Linked DNA regions of Homo sapiens: region 1 is linked to region 2. The links come from fine-mapping of genetic effects on gene expression. A gene starts in region 2. The other region holds a variant in brackets. All regions are shown on one strand. Distances are between the middles of the regions.

The links.
Region 1: its variant is fine-mapped to the expression of TDRKH in whole blood (TOPMed, PIP 0.94).

The regions. Positions count from the first base shown.
Region 1 is chr1:151,768,552-151,771,455 of GRCh38, forward strand. It overlaps OAZ3 (ornithine decarboxylase antizyme 3), which reads left to right. Exons shown (of 5, transcript NM_016178.2): 4 at 1,621-1,706; 5 at 2,526-2,779. The coding sequence ends at 2,668. It also overlaps a transcript of TDRKH not described here. Among named protein-coding and RNA genes, the nearest start is that of OAZ3, 3.3 kb to the left of the region's middle. RefSeq lists enhancers at 519-1,215, 1,216-1,910. The variant A/G (reference allele first, on the strand shown) is at 1,382.
Region 2 is chr1:151,789,060-151,791,963 of GRCh38, forward strand. It overlaps TDRKH (tudor and KH domain containing), which reads right to left and starts at 1,441. Exons shown (of 13, transcript NM_001083965.2): 1 at 1,321-1,441. It overlaps TDRKH-AS1 (TDRKH antisense RNA 1), which reads left to right and starts at 1,690. Exons shown (of 2, transcript NR_146292.1): 1 at 1,690-2,186. RefSeq lists a silencer at 1,126-1,385.

The sequences.
Region 1 (2,904 bases), 21 kb before region 2:
CAAAACTAGTTTAGCAACTTTCATTTCCTGGCTTGGGTGGGTGGAGGGCAGAAAACGACCAATAATATTTTTACTGCTCCAAGTAGGTGTCTTTCTGGATTCTGAGTTGGCCAAATTTTTTTTTCCCAGTATTTATTGATCATTCTTGGGTGTTTCTCACAGAGGGGGATTTGGCAGGGTCATAGGACAATAGTGGAGGGAAGGTCAGCAGATAAACAAGTGAACAAGGGTCTCTGGTTTTCCTAGGCAGAGGACCCTGCGGCCTTCCGCAGTGTTTGTGTCCCTGGGTACTTGAGATTAGGGAGTGGTGATGACTCTTAACGAGCATGCTGCCTTCAAGCATCTGTTTAACAAAGCACATCTTGCACCGCCCTTAATCCATTTAACCCTGAGTGGACACAGCACGTTTCAGAGAGCATGGGGTTGGGGGTAAGGTTATAGATTAACAGCATCCCAAGGCAGAAGAATTTTTCTTAGTACAGAACAAAATGGAGTCTCCTATGTCTACTTCTTTCTACACAGACACAGCAACAATCTGATTTCTCTATCTTTTCCCCACATTTCCCCCTTTTCTATTCGACAAAACCGCCATCGTCATCATGGCCCATTCTCAATGAGCTCTTGGGTACACCTCCCAGACGGTGTGGCGGCCGGGCAGAGGGGCTCACTTCCCAAAAGGGGCGGCCGGGCAGACGCACCCCCCACCTCCCGGAGGGGGCGGTGGCCGGGTGGGGACTGCCCCCCACCTCCCTCCCAGACGGGGCGGCTGACCGGGCGGGGGCTGCCCCCCACCTCCCGGACGGGGCAGCTGCCGGGCGGAGACGCCCCTCACTTCCCAGACGAGGCGGCTGCCGGGCGGAGGGGCTCCTCACTTCTCAGACAGGGCGGACGGGCAGAGATGCTCCTCACCTCCCAGATGGGGTCGCGGCTGGGCAGAGACACTCCTCAGTTCCCAGACAGGGTCGTGGCCGGGTAGAGGCGCTCCCCACATCCCAGACGATGGGCGGCTGGGCGGAGACGCTCCTCACTTCCTAGACGGGATGACGGCCGGGCAGAGGCGCTCCTCACATCCCAGACGATGGGCGGCCAGGCAGAGACGCTCCTCACTTCCCAGACGGGGTGGTGGCCGGGCAGAGGCTGCAATCTCGGCACTTTGGGAGGCCAAGGCAGGCGGCTGGGAGGTGGAGGTTGTAGCGAGCCGAGATCACGCCACTGCACTCCAGCCTGGGCAACACTGAGCACTGAGTGAACGAGGCTCCGTCTGCAATCCCGGCACCTCAGGAGGCCGAGGCTGGCAGATCACTCGTGGTTAGGAGCTGGAGACCAGCCCGGCCAACACAGCGAAACCCCGTCTCCACCAAAATACGAAAACCAGTCAGGC[A/G]TGGCGGCACGCGCCTGCAATCCCAGGCACTCAGCAGGCTGAGGCAGGAGAATCAGGCAGGGAGGTTGCAGTGAGCCGAGATGGCAGCAGTACAGTCCAGCTTCGGCTTTCACAACTTTGGTGGCATCAGAGGGAGACCGTGGAGAGAGAGGGAGAGGGAGACCATGGGGAGACGGAGACGGAGAGGGAGAGGGAGAGGGAGCGGCCAAACATTTTAACTGTTTTTCTGTGGCTCCTAGTTTGACTGCAACCCTGGAGTACGTGGAAGAGAAGACAAATGTGGACTCTGTGTTTGTGAACTTCCAGAATGATCGGAACGACAGAGGTGGGGATCTGCTGTTCTTCCTTGCTTTTCGCGCTGAGGCAGCTGGATAACTCCTTTTCCTTTATAGGAGACCCTCTTCCCCTGTCTTTAAAAATGCACCCTCAGGCATTTCAGGGATTCTTTTCTTCCCACCTACCACGAAGGTGGGAAGTTGTAACTTGTTCCATCAAGTTACAACTGGACTCTGAGGAAGCCCCTGCAGGTGGTGTTAGGGGCCAGACTGAAGGAGCACTGGTGAAATTACACAGAATCCATTCAAGGGATGTGGCCAGCAGGACAAAATGGATCTCAAACATATGGAGCACCTACAATGTGAAAGGGTCAGACATAAGGCCAAGGGAACGGGGACATATTTAACCGGATGCCTGGAGCATATGTTACAGAAACTATAGCCTCTTGCCTCAAGGAGCTCAAACTCTGTTGGATATAAGGGATGGTGAATAACCATTCATAAGTGATAGATACTATTTCAGAGCTTACTATGTCATCATTGTATTAGTATATAGGTAGACCTCACTAATCTCTAGTGTTAAGCACTTCATGAACATCTCATTTCATCTTAAATTCTGTGAGGAGGAAGGTTCTATGATTTATAAATGGAAAATTCTATAGATGGAAACTGAAGTTCTGCAGGACTAACTCACAGAACAAGTGTTAAAACCAGAGTTAGAGCCTAGGTCTGTTGGACTAAAGCACATCCTATATGCCTGCACTACACTGCTTCCCAGGGCCACTCCCTAGTGGAAGAAATCAAATCTGGGGGCATACATGTATTGAGTTTTAAAGCATGTTCTAATCATTTGTTCTATCCTTTCACAGGTGCCCTGCTGCGGGCCTTCAGCTACATGGGCTTTGAGGTGGTCAGACCAGATCACCCTGCCCTCCCTCCCTTGGACAATGTCATCTTTATGGTGTATCCCCTTGAAAGGGATGTTGGCCACCTGCCCAGTGAGCCTCCTTGAACATGCTTATTCCAACGCTTTGAGGGGCTGGAAGCCTTGACACATGGAATCAGGGGCCCGGGATGTGATTCAGGACACTTTCCATCCTAGGAATAAAGGGTAGTGCAATCATCAAGTGTTCACGGTTTCTTGGGGGGGTGGGTAATAGGGTTGACTGGAGTGGGATATACACCTTAACAGAGCTAAATTCACTGAAAAGATCACAGGGACCTGAACTACGGAGGAAAGTACCTAAG
Region 2 (2,904 bases):
TTTATTTAGAGACAGAGCCTTGGTCTGTCACCCAGGATGGAATGCAGTGAATGATAATAGCTCACTGCAGCCTTGAACTCCCGCAGTCGTCCGGCGTAGCTGAGATTATAGGTGCGGTTTTGGCCGACTTCTATTTGAAGCAAAAGGTAAATTTCACTAACTCCTCTTCAAACATTACAAATGAATTTGTGCTAATTGAGTTATCAGCTGATGTCTCAAAAAATGAGACTCTACTTGATCTGTCACTATGGTTTTGTTCACAATTTTCATATCCTTTCAGCTATAAGTTTCTCTTAAAGAGAAATGGAAAATAATATAATGTAAACGGGGATAACTGCATAGTACTGACTGCTAGCTTGTGTTTGATTTTATTACTTAAAAATTGAATGGGAAGGAGGAAAATACTAGAACTTAAGACCACAGTTTCTAGGGGAAGCTAAGAAGAGAAGATGAGGATCATTGTTCAGTGAGGAATGTGGTTAGATAATGGTTTTCAGTGAAAGCTAACTTTGAAATTTCCTGACATTTGTATTGAACAATTGCCAAAAACTATCTGATATGCATCGCTAAGGCTTACTTTATCATTTAAAATGACAGGAGTCAAATAGGATGTGATGAGAAGTCAAATCACATTGTTAGCTCCATGAAAGCATAGATAACTCATTCCAGTATCTCCTAATAACCAGAACCTACAAAGAACCTACAACATGGTGACATGCTTGAATCGAAGCAGCTCAATGTTCTCATCCTTGGTACGTTTATTTTAAATTCACGAGAAAAAAAAAAGTGTCAACCCCTTTCTCTCAAAACAAGGAAAGGGTCTAAAAGTCAGTCTTTGAAATAGGGGTCTCCAGCCAACCCCCACGATGATACCTGGATTAAGGAATGAGGGATACTGGAAAAACAAAAACCCCAATGTATTATTCTGACGACTGTAAACAGCCATCCTATTAGCGATAACTAAAGAAAAAGCTGGGGAAAGTTAAAGGCAAAGTGATATACGGATGGCAGCTCTCAGTCTCAAAAAGGCCCAGTGGAAGAGTCTGAACTGACTCAGGGCAAACACAAACGCTCCCGCACCGGGTCCGTTGTGGCGTAAGCGGGTGACTGGAGCATCTTCCTCAGATACAGTTACGAGTTCCCAGTGGGTCAAGTTGCCCCCGAGCGGCGTCTCACAGCCCAGGGCTCTGACTCCCCCGCTGCGCCCCACATCCTTCCCTCGCCCCGGGGCACGCCAGACCCCTCCCTTCCCTCGCTCCCGCATTTCCGTCTCCTAGTGGCCAGGGCTGCCCATGACCCTGTCTTTCCCACTCCCCAAACCTTCGGTCTCCATCCTCGCCTTTACCGCTGCTCCAGTCAGCCGTCGAGTGCGCCGCCTCGCGCCTCACCCCAGCTGCAGCCACCAGCGCCGCCGCCTCCCACTCACACCACCACAGTGAGCCCCGCCGGCGGCGCTTCAGCCGCCACTTCCCCGCCCCCGCAGCCCGACAGCACCAATCAACACCCTGCTCGCAGTCCGACCAATCGCCTTCTCCCGTCACAACCAATCCTTCCGCGGGCTGCCCCTGAGCGACGTGGCTGCTGCTAGCCGCTGCCCAATTACCCGGATGGAATCCAAAGCAGGCCCACCCTGTCAGCCAATAAGATCCAGGAAAAGCAGATGTTGTTAACTGAGACCGCACCTGCTGAGAATTAAACAGCCAATTACAAGCTTCCCGGCGTCCTCGCAGACCACCTCTAGGCCAATTACCGAGGAGTTTTCTATCTTCTAACCCTTGGAGGAAAATCTGCGCTCCAGCAGCTGGGACCGAGGCATGAGAGCGTTGAATCATGAGTGGCACCGTTCGCAAAAATTGGTGTCTTTGTACAAAGACAGTGCCACAACACAACTCAGTGACCATCGGGAGAGCAGCCTCATGATGGGCGATGCTCCATCAGTTTTCTCTTGCGATCTTTTGCATAGATCGGTCCCGCCCCGCATATGGCGATGAGGACTCAAGAGACACGGAAAACGTTTTCTTTCTGGAAAACATGAAATAGGCTTTGTAGATGGACAGGAAGTCAAGGGACAAGCGGTGCGCCGCAGAGAGCGAGGACCCACTCTTCTATTCCTTTGCGGAGGCACGGACACACGGTGTGGCCCGAAACAGCGGCAGGAGAGTGAGACCCGGGCTCCGACCGCGGTGGTAAGGGGGCGGCGGGCCATAGGGGCGCCAGGGGCCCACCCTTCCCTGGGGATTCGAGGAAACGGGTCGAGGCGACAGCGTGAAGGCCTACGCCGGGGGAGGGGGTGGTGGCGGGGGGCGTTTCTGTGGGGGCGAGGAAGGGAGCGGGTCTCCGCAGGCGGAAGTTTGCTTTGGAAGATTTTATTCCAGACGCTGTCCTGGTCCCTGGACGGTTAGGAACGGTTGGGTCCTGCTACTGCCTCCGTGGGGCAGGGAGCCTCGCGAGACCAGCACTGCGCCCTACTCGGTCCACCCTGTCCCCGCTCCGCGCTAGGGGCTCACCCTGGGAACAGGGGTCGGGCGATCCTGGTCATTGGGGGATCTTCCGCACTAGCTTCCATCACAATACCTGGCAGGTGATGAGCAATAAATATTTGCTGAAAGAACGCAAGGTTGTATCTTTTGTCAATTAGGCAGATGCCTTTGGGCCTCAGGTTTTGCTTTCTATTAATATAAAAATGTGTATGCGTTTTGAATAAGTAATACATTTACATTCTACAAAATTCAGAAGAAACAAGGTTATTATAGTGAATAAATTTTCCTTCCTTCAAGGCAACTAGGGTTACCAGTTTCTTGTGAAAAATTTCACAAGATATTCTATAGTTAACGTGTGTATATGTGTAATATATAAAGTGTATATATATATACACACACATATATTTTTTTAACCCAGTTGATA